Regions from separate parts of the Homo sapiens genome. Here regions 2 and 3 are each linked to region 1. The links come from fine-mapping of genetic effects on gene expression. A gene starts in region 1. Each other region holds a variant in brackets. All regions are shown on one strand. Distances are between the middles of the regions.

Region 1 (8,183 bases):
TTCCTACAAACCACAATAGGTTATACAAATGTGACCGAGTCATTGTGATTTTTATCAGGACTTAAACATTTAGCATCTTGTATTGTTCTATCTTGTCTCACTGATCTGGAGTCTCCAGATCCACTATAAGTTCAAGCTCAGAGACCATGTCATAGATTCTGCCTACCTTCATTGCCTGTAGTACTGGGCACTTAGCACCCATACAATAAGCACTTGTGAATTGGTCACTGGTTGATTTACTTGACAAATTTGCGTCGGAGTACAAAGTGTTCTGTGGTTTTTCTGAATTTCTTATATTGATAAACACATTTTCTGAAACTCACCATAATGTTTCCCTGGCCCATGATCTTTATGGTTTATCTTCCTTTTTTCCTAACCAGCTGGGCAGAATTTCACCGAAAAGCAGACCATTTTGTCAAAGGCAAAAATAATATTTTGCTAACGCAGTCTTTGAGATTCCTTTTAAGGCTGAGACATGGGACCCAAAAGTCACTTGGTAACTGTAAGCCCCCTCTGTCACTGTTCAACAAATGTAGTCCGAGATCCCACTAAGCACAGGGAACAGTGTTGGAACTGTAGGAATAAATGAGGAAAACTGAATCTCACAGTGGCTCTGCAGTCAGACTGCAAGGGATAGAATCCTAGCTTCACCTTTTCCGGGCTGGGTGACCTTGTACAAGTTACTCAGTTTGTCTCTCTTTCCTCCTGTAAAATACGGTGATAATAGAACCTACCATCCTAAGATTGTCATCAGGATGAAGTGAGTTCATACATGTAAAAGCTTTTAGCTTTTAGTGCCTAGTACAGCGTAACAACAAATATTAGAGATCTAGGTCAGTGCAGCTAAACAGACCAAGACCCAGATTAGCAAAATGACATGTCAAGTCAAGGAGCCATAAAGAAATAGATATCACAGCTGGAAACTGGGTCCCCACATCCTATTCTCTTCTCTATGATGTTTCTTTGTGGGTATTTCACACAGGTGGCACTCTGGAAGATGCACTTTCCTGACACCTGATAAGCAGAGTCAATAAACACACCCACCTTCTCTGCTTCAACATACCCTGCAGAGTCGTCCTTCCTCCTAGTGAGACCTCAGGCCCACCATTTCCCACTGGCCTCCCATCTGACTCAACATGCACCTGGGGGGTTCCATCTACTGCTGGCTCCCACAGCAATACTGCAGTGAAGAAAGCAAGCATCACATCCTCATGCAGTTGTTATGGGAATTAAATGAGATAATGCCTGGAAAAGTGCCTAGCAGAGTATCTGATATATAGTATGCAGCTAATAAATGTTATCTATTAAAAAATAGAAGGAAAAGGAGGAGGAAAACCCTGTGGTGCCTACTCTCTCAAAGCTGACACACATTCCAATGGCAAATGCCAGACACAGGGCAGATTGAGATGGGTGGTAGAACAGAGGGATGCACGTCTGTGAAGAATTACAGTGAAGGGCAAAACCCACTGAAGACAGGAGGGAGCTGCAGTTCCCACTCTCCCCCTTCCTTCTTAAAAGAAGATGATGATACTCAGTTGGTGCTTTGCTGGCAAACTCAAGCTCCAGAGCTTTGGATTTTTAATATTATAATATTTCAGAACAGAACAAAGACTGCTTCTGACCTCCCAATTTGCCCTCATACACTTGACCAGCAAAACCTTAGCGTAGCTGCATTCATCAATGGCTCTATTCAGGCAATTATGGGTCAGACAAAAGATTCAATTAATACTGATCCCGCAAGTCTCCTTAGTATATTCACAACATGCTTTGGATTCAGAGTTCTATGGCACCTTCATATGACCTTCTCCGGATCCCAATATTGACAATTCCTAGTTCAGAAACGACAAACATAATATTAGAACAAGAGAAGAAGGGAAGCTGGTGAGAAAGAAAGAACAGACTAGACTGGGTGCAGAAATTATATCATCCATTTGCTGTCTGTCCCCGAGTGCATCCTGGGGCCTGGCCCATGGCGGGCTGGTTGGAAATGCATACTGAACGAGTCAATCTCCTCAAGAAGGTCACCACCCAGGTAAGAAGTGGAGCCTGCACATTACACCAAGTTCAGCTAGAGAATCAAAGCCACCTCTTCGGCTCCAGATATGCAGGGAAGACAAAGCACGAGGGCATATGCCTTCAGCTAAGAGATAGGTGCGTGCTTCCTGTTTACCTGGGCAGGTATTTGCAAATAGTCTAAGAAGGGGGGCAACTAGGAGTGACTTACACAGTTCCAAGTGAATGGTTACGCAAATCGCTTGAGTAAATACAGGGAAAGAAACAGGAAAGGCTTCTGAACTGTTTGTACTCATCTGCTCCAGTATTTTCAGAGGGTAGGGTGAAAGACAAAAAACCCGAACGAAGGCTCCGGGCCAACCACAAAGCTACTCTCCGGCAGGAACGTAAGGAACACCTACCGCCCCTCCCCCCACTTCACGCCTTGGCACCAAACCAGGGCCCCTGGGTCATTTTGGCAGGTGGAGGTAGCTCTTTGCTGTCCTCTGCCCCTGCTGCGGGCCACCCGAGTGAAGCTTTCGGCTCGGTCTCCCCAGACAAAACCGGGGGGAGACATCAAGAATGCAAAAGGTGCTCCTTTCTCCAAATGAACGAGAAGGGACAGAGCGGGGTTGGGGGTGCAGGACAAGCCCTGCAATGCGAAAGGCGCCCAGCCAGGCTCGCCGCGGCCCCTGCCGGCAAGACTGGCTCGCTTGCTAGCCAAGGTGCCTCAGGAGGTCGGGCAGCCACCCAGAAAGGCGCGAAAAAAAAAAGAGGAGTTCCTGACCCCGGGGTGACCCTTCCCCACCACTGCCACTGATCCAAACGCAGAGTCCGCAAGTGACTCCACACCTGCGCTGCAAGCCTCACGCCGTCCCCACCCAGGGCGCAGCGCTGCACGAGAGCAAGGGCCCTGGGTTCGCTCTTCCCTGCAACTGTCGCGGGGCGCCTAGCACAGCTGCAGGGCAAAGGGGAGGGGAGGAATGACAAAGAAGGCGGAGCAGACGGCCCGGGAAGCATTTACAAGCGCCAGGAAAGCGCCTCCTCTCGAGGAAGGGAAGGAACGGCTTCCCGGCCAAGGAAACGCCCCGGGGATGCCCCTACGCGAGGTGCCGCCTTTCTTCGGCTCATCGATTCTCCCGCCTCCAGGTGGTCCTCCCCCTGACCATAGCCCACCCCACTCCCCGAAAGCTGATCCTAAATACCTTCCCCGAGGCTTTCAAATCAACCCAGCCACCGCTTCAACAGCCCGCAGTTCACGCAACAGGCGGAGCCTTAGGGCTCCAGCGACGGCGGGCTCTGGGGACCAGAGGATGCGGGCGCCGCGGGCCAGACGCCCAGAAGGACGGAAAGTGCTCTGCGGCCGTAGACCCTCGGGGTCGTGCACCCGCGACCTGGACCACAGGAGACTGGGGCAGCAAAAGGTGGGGGAAGGCGCGGTAAAGTTGCAGGGTCGCCCGGAGAAGTCTCCGGAGCGCGCAGGGAGGTGGGGACGCCAGCCAGGTACCTGCAGGAGTCCGGACGCATCCAGCTAGCTCCGCTCTGCGACGCCGCCTGCCCGCGCTGCAGGGATCAGGCCTCGCGGCGCGGCCCCGCGCCTGCCGCCGCGGCGGCGAGGAGAGCGGGGTGGCCCGCGTCGGCCGGTCTGTCCGTCGGTCCCGCCCCGCTAGAGCGAGGCTCCCGGGAGCTGCGGGCGGGGCGGGGCCGGACGGGACGGGGCGGGGCCCGCCGCTCGGCCGCCGCCCCATTGGTCGCAGCTCCGCCAGCCCCTCGCTTCGGGCCCGCAGCCGGGCGCCCCGGGCCGAGGGCGCGGGCGGCTGAGGACTGCGGGGCTCCGACCGCCAGACAGGCGGACAGACCCATAGACCTAGATGCTGCCCTGCCGGCCGCGCGCCCCCGCCCAGGCCCAAGTGCAGAGTCACCCCGGAGCGGCAGGCGCTGTCCGGGTGGGACCAGGAGCGCGCCCCGCGCCTCCCACCTGCGCGCCCTCCTGGGCCGGAAGCGCCGTGGCCCTGCGGGAAAAAGATGACCTCCCCCGCGGCCCCGGCGGCTGGGGCAACCGCCTTTCTAAAGTCGCGGCCCAAGCGACACTTTGCTAATTTGCCTGGATTTCCTCAGGAAATCGCGAGGCCCAAACTTGTTTTAAAACAAAGTGCGAAGGAGAGTACATATAGCTCCAGTTCCTGCCAATGTTTGCCATCGGTCCCGCTGCCTGAAGACTCAGGCACAGTGCAGAACAAGATGCTTTGTCTTATTCCTCCACTCACCGAGTCAGAAGAGGTGCTTGGACATTTGCACCAAGCAGATGCGCCTCATATGTAGAAGAGGAACCAGTCGGGTCCCCTTTCGGAAGGACGAATGGAAGAGGAAGTCAGGGGACGATGCCTTCAGCCGACGTTGAGGAACAAACCAGGACCTCGGCGAGGACAGCGTGTGGTCCAGAAGGCATCGCTGGCCTCGCTGCACTGAGCGAGAGCGCTCAGTTAACAGCCAGGAGGAGAAATGGGACGCTTCGGGACCCACCCCCGCGCTCCCCCTCCCGCCCCCAAACTGCAGATTTTTAAGTTGTGCAGACGTGGAACAATTCCTCGGAGCCAGCTGCTCCAAGCTAAGGCGCCCAGTGTTCCCTGGGTTCCTACCCGCAGCATACGCCCTGCCAGCTGCCCCCAAGCCAGCACCCGCTGACCACTCACCTCAGGCAAGCACCTAGGAAGACGATGCAGATTCAAGCTCCAGACCTTGAGCCAAGCGCTGGGGAGGGAATGGGGGCAAAGAGATGGTGGAAAACACTTTCCTGAACTTACTGAATACCCTATGTTATGTGTGGGTTTTCTAATTGTTCTTTGCTTAATGAAAAACCCACGTTGGAAATCAGAAAAAGGCAGTAATCCTCACCGTATCTTGTGGGCTTCAAAGAGGAGGTTTTCCCCTTAAAGGGAGTTTTGGTCCAGAGGAGAGGCTAACAGCAGGCAGGAAGGGCAGAGGAAAAGATAAAGCCTAGGGTGGTCTTCCCCCTGAGGCCTGGAGCCCACCAAGCTCCAACAGTTTCATTTGGCTTCTGGGAAGCAAAGTACAGATGCATGTGTCTGCAGAGCACTGTTCTGAGCCATTTGTCCCTAATTCCATGGTTCTTTGGTTCCTCCAATCTTGTCTCCTCTCCTGTGGAAGAGGATCCAAAGCATTGGTCCACACTGCTATTTACAAGTGGCTGAAGAAGGTAACTTTCTTACATAGTTCATCTTTAGCATAAGCTCTAAGATTGTTCTAAAAATATATTTACATTTTATCAACACCTTAGAAGAATGCTTCCAGATCTCTCCCAGCAGTTACCTATTTAATCATTTTAAAATCACTAAGTTTATCCAAAAAGTCCAGCATGGTTTACTTGAGAAGGAAATATGTTCAGAATCTCTAAGCACTGCAGAAGGCACCTGCAGTGCAGAAGAGTTGGCAGTGAGGTCTTTCTCCTGGGGTCTGGGCGGAACATGTGAGCAGTCGGGAAGGCACACACAGTGGGAGCCAGTAAGGGCCCCTGTGCATCTGCAGGAGCTGAGGACAGAAGGGGTGGGCCTCCACGGTGGGCATGTAGGAGTGGGCACAGAGAAGGGCCACAGATCTGAGACAGAGACAGACAGGACTTCTTACCCTGCTGAGCCCTGCAGGGAGCCACTTCGTCTTTCAGCCCTGATTTTGTCATCTGTAAGGAAATTTCCTCTCTCCCAGGGTAATCATGTGAAGCCAATGAAATAATAAAAAGGACCACATCGGATGACCCCTGAGGCAGGTCTGCTCCCCAAAAGTTTACTCTTGAATGTTGACCAAGGTTGAGCTAGGCAAAGTGGTAAATTCACACACACGGTATGTAGCCCCTTCCCCAACCCCAGTCTCCATTACCGGGGGCATGCTGTGAACTAACTGCCTCCTTTTCCCCACACACCCACTTCCTGCCCAGTCTTTATGCCTCCCGATATGACATCCCGTTCCCTCTTAATTAACTGTGCCTATAGAGAAACATCTAGATAAACCATGCATTTAATCTGTGAGGGGTCAATCATTTAATCATCGTTGACAATAATGCTCACTCCTCTGTGGTTTCAGAGGACTCCTGGAGTGGATGGAGACACATGCCACTAATGTGGGATGCATTTCAGTCTGTCTTCCAGGCCTCGTTTGGAGGTCTCCCTCTCTTACCCACCTATCACACATCCATGTCTTCCCTTCCCTCCCCAGAGCCAAACCTGTCCCCGACTTTTTATTCTCACTAAAGTTCAAATGACAGAAATCAGCTAGATTAGTACTTGCCTTAGTCCTGAAGGAAAGGGAAGTGCTCATTAGCTTCTTAAATTGGAACAGGTCTGCAGGTGAAAATGAAGATGTGCTCATCTCTGGCAGGAAGGTTGGGAGTGAGGGGTATAGTCATAATGAGCAGCGTTTATTTGGTGTGTGCCTCTCACTTGCCACTTTCTACCCAGCTGCCTGAATATCACTCCAGTTAGTCTGAGCACATGAAACACCTGCAACTCCCCAGACCCACCATGCTTTTTCTTGACTCTCTGAATGCACAGCAGTGCCTCCTCAGCTAAGAACACAGTTCCCCATCACCAAGCTTTGCTTTGCCCAACAGACCCCTTCTCCCTTAGGATGAGATTCAGTGGATAATCACATCATAATCACGACCCTCTGGGAAGCCGCCTCTCTCATCCTGGGTTGTGTGTTGTGTGTTTCCTTTCCACACTCCCTCAGCAGCCTTTGCCTCCCACTTTCATAGAATCTACCATATGGGATTTTAACTGTTTGTCTTCCACTAGACAATAAGCTCCTTGAAGACTGAATTTCCAGGAACTTCTGTTGGATCTGCATGTTTGTGAAGTGAATTACTGAAGGCTGCCCAGTTTCATCTGATCCTAGTCAAAACCTAAATCCCTTATTTCTACGCTACCTTTTGCCAGGTAAAAATAAAACATGTAAACCATCATATCGCTGTCTTTGCTTGGCTGCCAGGAAGCTCAGAACTAAATTTACATTAAATTAAATTTAGTTCTCAATCAGCTAGAATGTTTTTATTTCAGATTATTGCTACAATGATCATGCTCTTTTCACAAAATTATTGTATGCTTACTCTAACTGCCCTGTGGTATTATTTTTATATCAAAAGTTTCTTAAGGCCGGGTGCAGTGGCTCACATCTGTAATCCTAGCACTTTGGAAGGCCAAGGCGGGTAGATTGCTTGAGTCCAGGAGTTCAAGACCAGCCTTGGCAATATGGCAAAACCCTGCCTATATAACAAATACAAAAATTATCCAGGCATGGTGGTGCATGCCTGTAGTCCCAGCTAGTTGGGAGGCTGAGGCAGGAGGATTATTTGAACCTGGGATGTGGAGGTTGCAGTGAGCAGAGATGGTGCCATTGCCCTCCAGCCTGGGTGACAGAGAGAGACCCTGTCTAAAAAAAAAAGAAAAAGAAAAGAAAAAGAAAAATTCCTTAAATCTTTATGATCTTCAAGTACAAAGACTTGAATTCTGATTCAGCTCTGTCCCTGATTACCTCAGTGATATTTCCTCTTGGGCCCTACATTTGGGTTGGGACTATATCATCTTTAAGGCCCTTGCCAGGTCTAAAAGCTTTATGTTTCTATAGATAAAAGGAGACACTTTATAAATTATTAAAGAAAGAAAAAACCCTGTGACAGGCTATGTCTCCAGGCACAAAGGAATGCTGTCCTCAGGTACTCAGAATCACCCTCTGAAGGCCCTTGAGTATTGCCCAAGGTGAGTGCCACAGAACACCTGTGCCTGACCCTAGGCACGGAAAGGAAGGTGTTTACTCCATCACACTGGCAGGTCCTCATAACACTCTAGTATAGGAAAGGCTCTGTCTGAGAAGTTAGCCCATGAAAATATTTCCAGGGATGGCCTTCCAGATTGCTCATACTCTGGTCACAACTTGATTTTTTACCACATTTCAAGCTCTTCACACCTTTCTCTCTGCCTTACTCATTCATCACCACCTCCCCTCCCCTCTCCTCTGCACTTTCCTCACATTCCAGCCCGACAGAAGTGGCCCATCTCTCCTCTATGCTCACTGCATGCCATCTGAGTCTTGCCTTTCTGGTGCCTCGTTCCTATAGTGTTTCCTTCTCCACCGGAAAATGCCTGCTTAATCTCCAGGATCCAGTATATGTCACCCATTCT
Region 2 (8,183 bases), 240 kb before region 1:
CACATGTGTGAAACCATCACCAAAATTCATGCCATAAACATATCCATCACCTCCAAAAGTCTTCTCCACCATCTTTATTTATTAGTAGTAGTAGTAATAAGAACAGTTAATATAAGATCTTTCTTAGTACATTTTAAGTATGCAATACAGTTTTGTCTATTATAGGCATTATTCTGTGCAGTGGGTCTCTATGATCTATATTCATCTTGTGTAACTAAATCTTAGTAGCCTTTGACTAGTAACTCCAGTTTCCGCCTCCCCCCGACCCCTGACAACCACCATTCTATTCTCTTCTTTTATAAGTTTGACTATTTTTAATTCCACACATAAGTGAGATCATACAGTATTTGTTCTTCCGTGTTTGGCATATTTCACTTAACACAATGCCCTCCAGGTTCATCCATGTTGTTGAAAATGACAGGATTTTTTTTTCTTTTTATGCCCCAAATAATATTCCATTCTATGCATATACCACATTTTCTTTAACCATTCATCCATCAATAAACATTCAGGTTGCTTCCACATCTTGGGTGATGTGATGTTACAATGAACGTAGGAGTACAGACATCTCTTCAAGATCCTAATTCCTTTGAGTATATACCCAGAAGTGAGAGAGACTGCTGGTTCACAGGGTAGGTTTAATGTTAGGTTGTTTTGGGGGCTTTTTTTTTTTGGTATGTTTGTTTTAGTTTTAGTTTTTGTTTTGAGAAACCTCCATACCCATTTTCCATAGTGGCTGCACCAATTTACATTCCTACCAACAGCGTACAGGGTTCCCTTTTTATCCATATCCTCACCAACATTTGCCTTTCATCTTTTTGAGAATAAGCAATCTAACAGGTGTGAGGTGATATCTTATTGTGGTTTTCATTTGCATTTCATTGATAATTAGTGATGTTGAGTACATTTTCATATATCTGTCGGCCATTTGTATGTCTTCTTTAGAGAAATGTCTACTAGTTCCTTTATCAATTTTTTAATCTGATTATTTGATTTTTTGCTATTGAGTTATATGAGTTCCTTATGGTTTGAATGTTAATCCCTTATCAGATGTGGTTTACAAATATTTTCTCGCATTTTTAGGTTGTCTTTTCATTTCATTGATTATTTCCTTTGCTTTGCAGAAGCTTTTTAGTTTCATATAATCCCACTCATCTATTTTTGCTTTTGTTGCCTGTTTCATATCCGAGAAATCATTGCCAAGGCCAATGTCAAGAAGCTTTTTCCCTATATGTTCTTCTTCTGTTATGATTATTATTACTACTACTGCTGCTGCTGCTAGTATTATTGCTTCCTCTCTGTCTGTCTTGTCAGTTGGTCTAGCAGTTGAGCCAGAAAGCATTTATTCCTACGTTCTTTTTAACCTTCATAATGCTACAGTACCAGTAGAGGATCTTAAAACATGGTCAGGTTTATTTTCCTAAAATTTAACAGCTGAGTTCAGCAAACATCTATTGAATCTTTTCAATATGTCAATAAGTGTGGTAGACAGATGCCTCTGTACATATAGATTAAGGAAGAAGCCAATCTATGGTGTGATTTCAATGGTAACATAAATGCCATGCAGTCCTCTCCCAGATTTCCTTTTTCTGATGCTTGCTGCTCTGAATTCAACCACTTATGCACTATTTGTTTAGTTTACTCTCAGTCAAAATGTAAACTCCCCTGGGAGAGCTTTTTTGTTGTTGTTGTTCTTTCAAAACTTCTGTTTGTAATGGAGGGACTGGAGAGCATTTTCCTGAAAGCAAAAGAGAGTGAGGATTCCAACAACTAAAGGAGGAAGGGGATGCAAGGCATCTAAGACAGTGACTTGAGACCAAGTCAGTCCTTACCCAGCCTTTTTCAAGGGAAAGGCTACAAAGCAACTGCCAGAGAGCTGCATTGCTGGATGGAATGATTACCTCAGTGAGGACCAAGTGTGTGGCCCACCTGGAGCCTTCCATAGAAGATAATGTCTGTCTTGTCCCTATCTATCCCTCTGGGGTCACATGAATTCCACCGAAGCTGCAGCACTAACCCATCCCAGGAGCTGGTAGGATATATGGCTCCTCTCCCCACTGCCATCTTTGTCCTGAATTGGTGATAGCATTCTGAATCTATGAGCTTCCCAGTGTCAGCTCTGGTTGGACATTCTCTTGGGAACAAAGCCAGGCAGAGACACAGGGTAAGAGCTGATGATGCCTCCTGCCTGCCATTGCTACATTTGGTAGCCTGCCAGTCTAATTGCCAGAGAGCGGTTCACCAGCTTCCAACTGCCTTCAGTTTCATTTCCAAAGAGCAATGCTGACAAGTGATCGCCTCCGTGTCTCCTGGCAACAGCCAACTTATAAACACACATAATTAACCTCCCCTGTCATCATGGAAGAAATATGTTTAGATGGTTTAGAAATTCAATTTAATTTGGTAAGTCATACACCAGGCCTGGCCTGACTCCCATGAAGGAGTCAGAGTTGTATAAATAATGTCTCTTGCCCTCAACAACCTAGTAATGTACTGGAGAAGAGAGACTCAAACACAGAAACGGACCCTTAGTAGCATCTAAGAGAAGTCTGATTAAAAGATGCATGGAAGCTGACTGTCTCTGGTGTGCAGCAGGGTGAAATATTTATAAAGAGAGATGTTTTCTCAATTGGAATGGATTCCACATAAAAAAGTGTGAGAAATTGGTACTGACCATATTAAGCGTAAGAGAACAAGCTACTGAAGGCGAAAAAGCAGAGAAGGCAGGGCACCACAGCAGAAGACACAGCCCGTGCAGGACAGAGGGAGGAAGGCTAAGACTTACACATGGTCTGGTGCAGCGGAAGTTTGTGGAGACCACGTGGCAGAGATGAGGTTGGTGTGAAGGAAGCTGGGATCAGATTATGGATTATCAAGAGCTTTGAGATTCTGCTAAGAAACTTCTTCTTTCAAGTAATTAGTGTTTGACAAAGGTCAAACACTCCCCGCTGTGTTTTAGGAAAGGTAATGTAGCGGCTGGATGGGGAGGACCTGTGATGCAGGCCAGATACCAGGGAAAAATAGGAAACAGTTATCTATTTCCGAGACCCTGGCGGACCCCACTCAAAGGCAAACTGCAAGGGGAGAATGGGAACAATCAAAGCCATGAGTTCTGAAAATAGCCTCTATCTATGTACATTGATAAGCTTTCCCATGGAAAATGGGTAGCTGGTAGATTGTCTGAGCCTCAGTCTACATCCCAGTGAATGCTGGCAAACACAGATAGAACCCTGGGACCAGAGACAGGCTCCAAATTCAACAGTCATGCATCCGCTGAGTCCCCAGGGGCCTGAGCACAGTGGGCTAAGCCCTGTGCAGGAGAGTCCTGAGCTTTCTAGAGCGTTCCTCTTGACAGACAGATCTACCCAGTTCAGAGCTACCCTGTTACCCAAAATCCCTGTAGAAAACTCCAAGGAGACTTGGAGCAAGGAAACACCACATTCGCTGACTCACTCTCTCATCTACAGCACAAATATTTGTGGAGTTCACTCCAATGATTAAATCCTTTCGACAAAGGGAAAGGACTTTACAGTGCTCTTTATTAGTTATTGGATTTTCCATTTCTCAATGCGAGGGTGGAGAAGAAGATGCAATAAAGGCAAACAGTTTGAAATTGATTGTTTGCTTCTCTCCAGGGTAATTTCCTGGTAACTGACAAAATACACAGACTATTAGAAGCATTCGTGGACTTATGGTAAAATCTTTTTCTTTGTATTTTATATTTTTAAAAATCCCTTAAGCCACAGTTTTGTTTTTAATATAGGGTCTGGAGGTTGGTGGCCCTCTTCTCACAGCTCCACTGGGCAGTGCCA[A/C]AGTAGGGACTCTGTGTGGGGGCTCCAACCCCATATTTCCCTTCTGCACTGCCCGAGCAGAGTTTCTACATGAGACCCCTCCCCTGCAGCAAACTTCTGCCTGGACATGGTTGTATTTTGAATTGTGAGGACATGAGATTTGGCAGGGGCAGGGATGGAATGATACGGTTTGGCTGTGTCTCTACCCAAATCTCATCTTGAATTGTAATTCCCATAATCCCAACCTGTCAGGGGAGGGACAAGGTAAAGATAGTTCAATCATGGGGGCAGGTTTTTCCTGTGCTATGCTCATGATAGTGAATAAGTCTCCCAAGATCTGATGGTTCTATAGGGTGCAGTTCTCCTGCACAAGCTCTCTTGCCTGCCCCCATATAAGACATGCCTTTGCTCCTCCTCTGCCTTTCACCATGATTGTGAGGCTTCCCCAGCCATGTGAAACTGTGAGTCTATTAAACCTCCTTTTCTTTGTGAATTGCCCAGTCTTGGGTATGTCTTTATTAGCAGCATGAGAACAGACTAATACAGGGAGAAAAAAAGAAAGAGAAAACCACAAAACAACCAAAAAAATAAAAAAATGGCAGATGTAAGTTCTTTCTTATTGATGATAACATTTAATGTAAATTGACTAAACTCTCTAATAAAAAGACAAAAAGTGAAACAAAAAATGAGAATAATAACACAAACCTCATACGGCAGCTGTGTGCAGGTTCACCATCATGTGGCAGTGGAAAGCACTGCATTGCAGAGCTCTAGGGGGCGCCTTTCACAAAGACTACAAAGTAAATGGTGCCTGCTGCAGCTGAGCAGTGTACAACCTGCACAACCATATGGGGCAGCCCTGGCTCTGAAAGAAGATCAGGGGAATTAAGGCTATGAAACCACTTATTAAACTGTAACAGCTGTTGTAATTATCACAACTATTGTCAGGGATATCCAAAGGAATGCCTGAATCCCAACAGTGATCTGCCTCTAGCCAGGAGCATTACTGAGCCATGAGCAGCTTGAATTGAAGACCAGACAGCAACGAAATCCTAAACACTGCAAATGGAAAATCTTACAGGCCATTTGACCTGTGGAAGAAAGTAGATCAGGGATTCCAGAAAAATGGAGCAAATGTGAACAGTAGCAGATGTACGTTGTGTTTACTTCGCTCCAGACATTCTTCAAAGCATGTTACATGTATTGTCTCATTAAATCATCACTCCCACTCAATTAGTGGGTACTGTTATCACATCCAATTTACAGACGACAAAATGCTACACAGGACATTAGGCATTAGACCAAGCTACCATGGTTTGTTTGTAAGCAGTGGAACAGAGAGCTGAACCCAGGCAGTCATCTCCAGGGCCCGTGATCTCAACCACCTCCCTGGTCTGAGCAGAGGACAAACCTTACTGCACCATGAGGCTTCCTATGCAGAGTCTGAGCATCAGCCATCCATTAGGGAAACAGACAAGGCCAACAAATCAAGCACAGAGGGTGCCTTGAGCACTTCCTAGATGCTCTGTAAACTCCATGGGCCCAAGGAGGAGAGTATAAAAACATGACAAGGTTTCTGCCTTTCAGGAGCTCACGCTGTATCTAAGACAATACTAAGGCAAAAACAAAAACAAAACAGGAGATAATTAATCAAAAAAGCACATTCAATCATGTGGTAGGGGTTAAGCATCCCTAATCCAAAAGTCTGAAATCCAGAATGTTCCAAACTCTGAAACTTTTTGAGCACAGACATGATGCTCAAAGAAAATGCTCATTGGAGCATCTCAGATTTTGGATTTTCAGATTAAGGATGCTGAACTGGTATAATGCAAATATTCCAAAATCAAAAAAAAAAAAATCTGAAATCCAAAACACTCTGGTCCCAAGCATTTTGGAAGAGGGAACTCAACCTGTACCATGCAGAAGGATTTCTAGCAAAAGAAAAGTATTTTCTGAAAGGTTTTCTGAAGGGTCTGGAGCCTGATTAGGGTTTTGGAAAGAACAATTTGAAAGGAGGTGGTAGAGGGAGGTGGCTCTCTCCAAATTTCTCTCTCTCGGTGTGGATCCGGGTGTGGGTGAGTCATTGAGGCAGAGATACTACTCTGACTTGCCAGAGATACTACTTGTAGAAATTAGTTGAAGGGAAAAACAAATAATCTGGATATGATGGCAATAGTTTCCGCCCCAAGCTGATACTCATTTTGTCTTTTATATTGCTCCCTTGATGAAGGAGGTGAGGTTTTTACATTATTATAAAGCAAATAAAACCATGAATGATGTTTGATAATATATATAGCTCATTTTATGTACCTTTAGGTAATTTTATTATGTAATACTTATGTAGCTTTTATATTATACAATATTTATATCAGGTTTCAACAGTTATAAAGTCTTCCCCTTCTTTGGAACTATATTAGTCCATTTTCACACTGCTGATAAAGACATTACCAAGACTGGGTAATTTATAAAGAAAAAAAGGTCTAATGGACTCAGTTCCACATGGCTTGGGAGGCCTCGCAATCAAAGCAGAAGGTGAAAGGCATGTCTTACCTAGTGGCAGGCAAGAGAGAACATCAGAGCCAAGTGAAAGGGGAAACCCCTTATCAAACCATCAGATCTCAAGACTTATTCACTACCATGAGAATAGTATGGGGGAAACCACCCCCATGATTCAATTATCTCCCACCAGCTCCCTCCAACACCATGGGGGAATTATGGGAGCTACAATTCAAGATGAGATTTGGGTGGGGACACAGCCAAACCACATCATTCTGCCCCTGGTCCCTCCCAAATTTTATGTCCTCACGTTTCAAAACCAATCATGCCTTCCCAACAGTCCCCCAAAGTCTTAACTCGTTTCAGCATTAACTCAAAAGTCCACAGTCCAAAGTCTCATCTTAGACAAGGCAACTCCTTTCCATCGATGAACCTGTAAAATCAAAAGCAAGTTAGTTACTTCCCAGATACAATACAGGTACAGGCATTGGGCAAATAAATCCGCTCCAGATAGGAAAATGGCCAAAACAAAGGAGCCATGCAAGTTTGAGATCCAATAGGGCAGTCATTAAAACTTAAAGTTCCAAAATGATCTCTTTTGACTCTATGTCTCACATCCAGAGCACGCTGATGCAAGAAGTAGGCTCCCATGGCCTTGGGCTTTGCAGGGTGCAGCCCCCCTCCTGGCTGCTCTCACAGCTGGCATTGAGTATCTGCAGGTTTTCCAGGTGCACAGTGCAAGCTGTCGGTGGATCTACCATTCTGGGGTCTGGAGGACAGTGGCCCTCTTCTCACAGCTCCATTAGGCAGTGACCCAGTAGGGACTCTGTATAGGGCTCCAACCCCACATTTCCCTTCCACACTGCCCTAGCAGAGGTTCTCCATGAGGGCCCTGCCCCTGCAGCAAAATTCTGCCTGGACATCCAGGTATTTGCATACATCCTCTGAAATCTAGGCAGAGGTTCCCAAACCTCAATTCTTGATTTCCATGCACCCACAGGCTCAATACCACATGGAAGTTGCCAAGACTTGGGGTTTACACCCTCTAAAGCAACAGCCCAAGCTGTACCTTGGCCCCTTTTAGCCATGGCTGGAGTGGCTGGGATGCAGGGTACGAAGTCCCTAAGCTGCACACAGCAGGGGGACCCTGGGCCTGGCCCATAAAACCAATGCTTGCTCCTAGGCCTCCAGACCTGTAATGGGAGGGGCTGCCAAGAAGGTTTCTGACAAGCCCTGGGGACATTTTCCCCATTGCCTTGGTGATTAACATTTGGCTCCTTATTACTTATGCAAATTTCTGTAGCCAGCTTGAATTTCTTCTCAGAAAATGGGGTTTTCTTTTCTATTGCATGGTCATGCTGCAAATTTTCCAAACTTTTATGCTCTGCTTCTTCTTGAACGATATGCTGCTTAGAAATTTCTTCCCGCAGATACCCTAAATCATCTCTCTCAAGTTCAAAGTTCCACAGATTTCTAGGGCAGAAGCAAAATGCTGCCAGTCTCTTTGCATCGCAAGAGTGACCTTTACTCTAGTTCCCAATAAGTTCCTCATCTCCATGTGAGACCACCTCAGCCTGGACCATATTGTCCATATCACTATCAGCATTTTGGTCAAAGCCATTCAACAAGTCTCTAGGAAGTTCCAAACTTTGCCACATCTTCCTGTCTTCTTCTGAGCCCTCCAAACTGTTCCAAACTATGCCTGTTATCCAGTTCCAAAGTCACTTCCACATTTTCAGCTATCTTTACAGCAGCACCCCACTGCTGGTACCAATTCACTGTATTAGCCACTTTTCACACTGCTGATAAAGACATACCCAAGACTGGATAATTTATAAAGAAAAAGAGGTTTAATGGACTCACAGTTCCATGTGGCTGGGAAGGCCGCACAATCAT
Region 3 (8,183 bases), 310 kb before region 1:
AGAAATCTTTTCCCCCCATTTCTTACAGAGTTGATGAGTAAGCACAGAAAATGATAAGAAAGAGTTCTGGGAAAATATTACAGAGTAGAAGTAAAAGTATCCTTTCCCTTTTCTCTGTGATCATACTTCTGCTATCTCTTTTCCAACATCTGTAAATAATTTATGTATATAAAAATAGAAAAGCAATATATTGTATATATACATATATATGTAATGTACATACAAATAAGAGAGGAGGAATTCACAAACAGCAAAGTGATCTTTCTGAGTTGAAAATGTAACTGCCCAATGTGTTCTTCTTGCCCACTGCCTAGATAGAGCTGATTCATCAAGACAGGGGAATTGCAATAAGAATACTGTACACATCAAACAAAGCAGTGCAATGGGTAAACCATTAGGACCTCTGTACAGTCACAGGGCAGTCAACCAACTTCAAAAGTGGAGCGAGGCAGGGGAAGTCTGAGGCCACTGCTCTGCCATTGAGTCACACACTGACCTTGAGTTTCTGATCTCAGCTACCCAACTGATGTCTTTATTTAGGGGAAAGTTTTATTTTTTTCTCAGAAACTAGAAGGCTAACACACAAATCAGGCCCTAGGTACTCAGTTATTGATCAGTCCAAGCTGATCAATTGTATCATTGGCTGCTTCAGTGGCACTTTCAATTGCTATCAACTAAGAAGGGAATGTAAAGCCCAAAATTGACTGGACTTCAGTCTTCAGAGAAAATCTGAAACTGGCTTCTCAGGTTTCAACATCCGTGGCCATTCCACTAACAGATACTAGGAAGATGAGATAGCAGAGCTGAAATTACATATATTGCCTTAGAAAATCAAAGATCCAGGAGAAAAGAACAATTCTGTTTTATATCTGTGACAGACATCTCAATATCTCTGTTGGCTGAGGATGTGCCATTTAGCCAGTTATAACAGCCTACTCTCATCATAACAGAGTAAGGCAGAGGTGTCATCCATAGAATGAAAGACTTTCAGACTACTGCAAACATCTACTAAGCATATTTGAAGCATAAAGGAAAACAACATGTAATTTCCTTTCAGATTCCTCTGAAGAAAACTTGTATAGGATAAAGGATTTATCTTCGACTTCTTGAAAGGATGTAATTTACAATAAAAAATTATATATTGGTGAGGTGGAATTTAGGACAAGTGGATAAAACAAATGAGACAAATTTCGACTCAATATGAGAAGCTTCTAACCTGCAAGCTGCCTACCAATGGGATGGAGATGCAGTCATTGTGCAATGTTCACGCTGAAGCAGAACGACCTTTCAGGGGTGATTTGCCCCACTTGCAGGTCATTCTCAAGTGTGATTCAGTAATGTTTTCTTCCAATCTTTAAGACTATATAATTTCCTTAAATTCCTTTGAGGAGGATCAGGTAATAAACACAAAATATTGCTCATACCTAAATGATTGCAATTTCCATTTTCACTCTGTCTCCCCTATAAATTTATTTGACATCTTTTACTATGTGAATTTAATAACATTTCATTTAACAAATAAGAACCCTGATTCCTCATCATTCTATGACCCCAATGATATGCAAAAAAACAGAAACCAACAAATGTAGTTTATATTTTAAATGCACTTGGGTTCAGTTTCAAGAGAGTCCTTGAAGTGTACTGTTGGCAGATTTGGTTTTGCAAACACACGTCTCTCTGAGGAAGGTGAACAGTAGATTGTGTTTCTCAAGAGACCCTGCTGATTTTTGTTTCCAACTGAAAAATGTAAATTCTTTTCATTCAACTCTTAGAAATTTTTTGAATTCTTCAATTTCTCACAGATGGTTCCAAACTCATTTCTTTCAGGAGAAACTTCAGAAAAAGACAATCACAGGGGACATCATTTTTTATGAGGACTAATGAGACATTGTCAATAATGTAGGCTGTAGTCCCGGGAAGAATAGCATGAGAGAAAAATTAAAGATCAACAGCATTCATTATCTTCAAAATGGTCTCTCTTCCAAATAAAAGGAACACAATTATGCAGAATAAAGTTTAATATTTTCAAATGCTGCTCAAATTTTCAAATGTAGAGATACGCTTGTTGTATTAGTCCATTCTCATGCTGCTAATAAAGACATACCTGAGACTGGGTAATTTATAAAGGAAAGAGGTTTAATTGTCTCACAGATCAGCATGGCTGGGAGCCCTCAGGAAACTTACAATCATGGTGGAAGGGAAAGCAAACACATCCTTCTTCATATGGCAGCAGCAAGGAGAAGAATGAGTGCCCAGTGATGGCATACTTATAAAACATATAAGGTTTTATAAAACCATCAGATCTTGTGAGAACTCACTATCACGAGAACACGATGGGGGAAACTACCCCATGATTCATTTATCCCCACCTCATCTCTCCCAACACACATGGGGATTATGGGAACTACAATTCAGGATGAGATTTGGGTGGGGACACAGCCAACCCACATCACTTGTTTGTGAGTCTGAGTTTATAGGCCAGAGTACAAACTGGAGTACAAATTCTGCCAATGGCAGTAGATTTTCCTTTTCAGGTTCATGTCATGCTCCCTGAATTCTGATAATCACAAAGGCCTGACCCAGGAGGAATTTTATGGTAAAGACCCTGTCTGCTGAGAGATGGTGTTGGAGAAATGGCTGCCACTCTTAGGATAGTTTACATCATCCTATTCTCCCTCACATTCAAGGAAAGAGAAAAAAAATGGTGGGTAATGATTTCTATTTTAATCATTTGGTGCAATTTTTAAATGAGGAAACCTATATTCCCCTATGAAATGCATGCTCTTTCCAAAAAACTTTTTCATCCAAGCAATACCCTGATAGACCCAGTCACTCCTGTCTTAGTCGATTCAGGCTGTTAAAACAAAGTATTATAGACTGGGTGGCTTATAAACCACAGAAATTTATTCTTATGAGTTCTGCAGACTAGAAGTCCAAGATCAGGGTGCCAGCATGGTCAGGTTCTGGTAAGGGCCCTCTGCTGGGTTGCAGACTGTTGACTTCTCATTGTATCCTACAGGTGGGAAAAAAAATATCAAGAGAGCTCTCTGGGGCCTCTTTAATCAGGGCACTAATTGCATTCATGAGGGCTCAACTCTCTCTCATGACCTAATCAACTCCCAAAGGCTCCTCCTAATACCATCAGCTTAGGGGTGAGGATTTCAAGGTATAAACTTCAGGGGATACAAACATGCAGTCATAATGCCTTATTTACAGAAAATGTGTTTGTACCTTTCCATTTTAATATAGGCAGCCTAAATATGTAAAAGAAATGAATTTAGACCTAAAAATACTCATACTTTATGGTTTAGTGATATCCCTCTATATTCATTTATTTAGTTTTCAAAACAATTCTGTAAGTAGCTTTTATGAAGTTGCCAGTGATAACAGAACACTTGAAGACT[T/G]GTCTAAGATTTAATAGCTATTAAATGGCATCACCAGAACCAGTCTCTGACTTCCTAACCCACCCTGTTTCTCTTCTAGCCCTGGGTGGAATCATAGTGTTAAGAATCAGATATGGAAACTTTCTTACCCATGTATTAATTTAGCTGATCTGAATGCTCTCCTTTAGGAAGATTTTCAGCATTTCTCTAGACTTGAAGGCTTTTATAAGGGTAAGAAACTCAAAAGTAATAAAGTAGACTCCTTTCACACTAAAAATGATTTCTGACACCATCTAGCATTCCTGTCATATTTCTCAATGTGTCCTGAGAAGTGACCAGCAGGTAAGTTAATGCTTATATGTTTCATAGGGAAGTTGGTAGCAACCAAGTAAATTGAATCCAAGTGAAAGCCTGTTTATTCATTATTCACAAATTCAAATGGTATCTTTTATGGTTGGCAGCCTATGAAACTCATTCTGGTCTCATTTCTTTTTTATTTTTGTTTATTTTCATTTCCCAAAATAAATCCATAACTTTGGAATTATCAGATACACAATAGCTTAGCTAATGATGAACTGATCTGTAAACTACAACTGTCCTCATCCTAAGTAATTATTTCACTTGAAATGGAAATGGATTTACCTTGAGGGTTGTGCAGACCCTTAGAAAAATGCAGGAGACCTCACATTTTCTCTATTTTCCAGCATAGGATGAGCTACAGCCTGCAAACTGCAACAGGGAATCATGTGGGGTGGAATCTGCACAGATGACAGTTTCACACTGGTGGACCTGACAGATGACACACTTATTAATATCATTAACACTGAGCAGCTAACTATTCCAGCCCTTCCTAAAGAATTTAAGAGTGCTCAAAATTCTGAAACCCTCTGAAACAAGGGCATTTAGAGATATGACTTTTCTAAGTATACAGGTATTGCATGGCTCATTCAAAACCCTGACCTCACACTCTTGGAAGCTGTAACTAGTTGATTTCCACTTCAGCCTGCCCTGGATTCTGAGGTCAATACTGGAGGCAGTTGGAAGGGTATGTAGAGTCCGTAAAGTGTAGTGGCATTTGCTATGGAGTATGATGGAAACAACTCATGGGTCCAGCTTTTTTTGACCATCTTCTTTATTCTGCTCCAAATCAATGCATGTAAAGGTTCCGGCTTCCTGTTCCTCTATGACTAACATCCTGAACTCCAATTTCTTCCCAAGCCCTTCCCTGCCTTACCTACCAACTCCCTCTCTATAAAAATTATGTTCTCTGTCCCTGAACAAAATATTTTTATGGCTACATCTCTTATATCAATTACTCTCTGGTACAACCTCTGCAAAATTCTTAATTAGTGATATTTCTACTTTGTTCATCTGTCCCGCCTGTCTTGTTTCTCACTACACTAATCACCTAATTTGTGACAAAACTTCAAACTCATGTCCTTTCATGCCTGAATCTAGAAGAAAAGCAAGCAAGCAAGCAAGAGCCTCTGAGACATGACTTCTTCCTTTTTCAGAGCTCCTCAAATGTCACCATAAGATTCAAGTGAAAATTCTGGGCCAAATTTTAGGTGAGATATTCAGACAACAAACATGGTTTAGTAGCATTGGGCTCCCCATTCAGAGCCTCCAGCATTTTGAGTTTGAACACAGTGGTACTTTGTATTGAACTATGGATATGATTAAGAAATAAGTAACAGTGTGTGGTCCTGTTTTTTTTCCAGGTAAATCACTTATTGCCAGGAAGCATTTCACCTGTTCAATACTTAGATGGAAGAGGGATGCAATATCCCATTTCCATCATTGACGTCTGTCAATCAACTATGACAAATTTCATAAATTATCCTCAAGCCTCTAATCTTAATTTTCTTCCAAATCCAAGAAGCAATATGATTACCACTCTTCTTTTCCTAGCGTTTTAGTGTTCCAAATAACTCCATAAACAAGAGGTACTGAAAAAAAATCTGTGTCACGGGGATATAGATCCCCTTAATGGAAATGTATACTTAACCTTGAATATTTAATCTTCAAACCGTTCAATCAACCATGAATTATCCACTGTAAAATACATTGGGCTTTGAGCTTATCTGATTTCACTTTACATTATGAGCTGATGTTATACATACCCTCCAGAGAACTGCCCTTTCCCTCCTAGGTACCTTCAGCCTCCCTGGGTCTCTTTTCTCTCTGAGAGGATGGATTTTTTGGGTGGTGGGGGTGCTTTAGATTTTTTGGCCGACCCAGAGAATATCAAAGGAGAAAGAGTCCTTGGAGATCTTCCAAATATGACTCCTCATTTCTTAGATAAGGAAACAAAGATAAGGGAAAAGTGAAGGATCCAATGCTACTCAGCCAGAACACAGATCACTCGACTCCCAACTAATTATGCCAGCAGTAGGTGCTGAGTTTCTTTTCTTTACCAGGCATTGCCCTGGGTTTTGTGAATATAAAAAACAGTCCTTGACTTCCAGCAGCCTGTGCACACCACTGCCTCCTCCTTGAAGTTCAGATGCATCATTTAAGGTATTTGCCTTAACTCAAATTATATTTTCTTAAGAAGCTTCTGGAAGCTTTTCATTTTATCAGCCTCAGAGGACAATCTCACCAGACTGAAAACTAAATGCCTGTTTACTAAGCCAAGTGGTTGAGACCTTGAGGAAGAGCAAAAGGACAACCCCCCTGAATGTGCACATTGACCTTGTCCTCCCAGCAGCCCTGCAGTCAATGGCTATGATTTAGTCTGGAGCATCTGCCAGATCCAGATTAGGGAGACCCTCCTTTTCACTTCCATAATACCCCCTGTGCTTACTTGATTTGTGGGTATATGTATCTGTCTCTTCCATTAGACTCGAGCTTCTCCAGGATGTAATTATGCATTCTACCCATAATGCTTAGCATGGTGCCAGGCACTTAGTAGGTTCATGCTAAATAATTTTCAAATCCATTAATATTCATATATTTAAATTAGCTTGGCATGGCATGGCTAGGAAACAAGTGCTAGGAAAAGGGATTTAGAGGCTGTGAATTTGCTCTTCATCCTGTAGTTTCTCTGAAAGTGCTTTTGGCCCTGTCACTTTTCAGTCCCTACCTACAATCAGCACGTGCAGGACAGTCACCTTTTGGCAAGGAAGGCAAGTTGTCCCTCACCTGGGATCCCTGCCCCCTCTGCACCTAGAGCACACAGCTGCAGCTGTGTTTCTGCACCTGCGGAATCCAAAGCTGTGTGCACAGTCCCAGAGCAATGCAGGCAAAGTTGCACAGGAAAGAAACATTAACACATTCTGTCACAATGTAAAGTTAACTTTACATTCATGGTGGGGAAAAGTAATAGAAAGGTTTTCAAGCATAAAAGGATCTTCTACTTCAACTACAAAAAAAAAAAAAAAGAAGAAAAAGAAGAAGAAAAATGCCTCACAAACAACATCTTCCCTTGGACATCAAATTGCTCTGCTGACAGGATTCTTAATCAAAAAGTCCAAAGAAGAAAGATGAGTGGAATTTACAAAGATTCAGCCAGAGAGAATAAATGAAGACATTTGCTGTGCTTCTGTAGGTGAAAAAAAGATGGCAGATACTCACGACTCTGTTCTGGAGGCTCTGGAACTTGTTATTGGATCAATTACTCTGAGTCCCCAGACACACTGACCTGAGCAGCATCAGTGTTCCCCAGGACATGGGCTGTTATCAGTAGGATTTCCGCTGTGCATGCTGATTAGAGGAGATGGTGACCAAGAGGCCCTGAACGGTGGACAGCAGCCCCCTCTGCCTGGAAGCCTTTGATACCATGGAGCATCACCTAAGTTCTGCATTCTCAATTATAACCAAGTTAAATTACTTTATGTATTTATTAAATCACTATTTAGAAACTTACTGTGAGTCATACTTGGCTTCAAACACCTCTGCCTGCCATGAGAAAACTCTGAGCATGAAGAAAATGTTTATTTACTATAAAACTTTGGCATTTTAGGCTGCAGACATCTGTTGCCAGAAAGAATAAAGAAAGAAAATGAAGGAGGAGGGAAGAGAAGATTCAGTAACTTCTTGAGCTGGTATGATTGCCTAACCCTGTGAGGGAATAGCAGGTATTTGACGTGAGGCTCAAAATAAAAGCAATTGCATTTTGCTTCTGCTTATGTTTCTTCCAGAGTTCTTTGCAAACATTCCAAAATTCTGATGTGAAAGTCATGACACCCCACTAGGATGAATGCAGCTTTCAGCGCATAGATTATTTTCTTTTTTATTGATGCATAATGGATGTGCATATTACATAGTAGATTTTTAATCCACAGTGGTTGCTATGCCATGACTTGATTGGGTTTACAAAGCATAATTTTTCTTCCAAGTCTCATCAAATCAGCTCACTTCCTCTGGCTCCCTGATTACATAGATGTCATTATGCCAAGACTCTCAATAGGGCTGGAAAACCAACACACACAGCCCTATATATATTAACTGCCATAAGTCCCAACAAAAAGGATGATGTAACCAATAAAAAGTCACAGTGGCTCTGGCCAGCTCCTCATGGTTGGGCCTCAGCAAACTCACAGAAGGAGCAGGCTGCAAGCAAAACACTAGGGATAGGAAGATGAGTGGGACCCACGCCTGACTTGGCGAGCTCATAGCCTAGTGTGAAGAAGGGAAATGTGAACTAGACATGCAACAGATAACACCCATAAAACCCAAAAAGAATCATAACACAGGAGGGCATGTTGTGGGTAGTCCAAGTACAGGCTAAGTAATTCTGTGTGTAGTGGTGAGGTGGGGTAGTAGGAAGTGTTCTAGAAAAAAGGCAGCATTTCAGTT

Direction of the effects. Alleles are on the strand shown, and positions count from the first base shown. SD is a standard deviation of normalised expression in the study named. Not every link is listed here.
As copies of C replace A in region 2, the expression in gastroesophageal junction of the gene that starts at base 3,639 in region 1 goes up (small effect, 0.25 SD a copy in GTEx).

Evidence for each region.
Region 2: its variant is fine-mapped to the expression of KCNS3 in gastroesophageal junction (GTEx, PIP 0.96).
Region 3: its variant is fine-mapped to the expression of KCNS3 in subcutaneous fat (TwinsUK, PIP 0.92).

Annotation. Positions count from the first base shown.
Region 1 is chr2:17,874,123-17,882,305 of GRCh38, reverse strand. KCNS3 (potassium voltage-gated channel modifier subfamily S member 3) reads right to left here and starts at 3,639. Exons shown (of 3, transcript NM_002252.5): 1 at 3,500-3,639. LOC124907737 (a long non-coding RNA gene) reads left to right here and starts at 5,744. Exons shown (of 2, transcript XR_007086226.1): 1 at 5,744-6,941. RefSeq lists silencers at 3,519-3,568, 3,659-3,858, 3,869-4,028.
Region 2 is chr2:18,114,212-18,122,394 of GRCh38, reverse strand. No RefSeq gene overlaps it. Among named protein-coding and RNA genes, the nearest start is that of KCNS3, 240 kb to the right of the region's middle. The variant A/C (reference allele first, on the strand shown) is at 3,813.
Region 3 is chr2:18,186,582-18,194,764 of GRCh38, reverse strand. No RefSeq gene overlaps it. Among named protein-coding and RNA genes, the nearest start is that of KCNS3, 310 kb to the right of the region's middle. The variant T/G (reference allele first, on the strand shown) is at 3,405.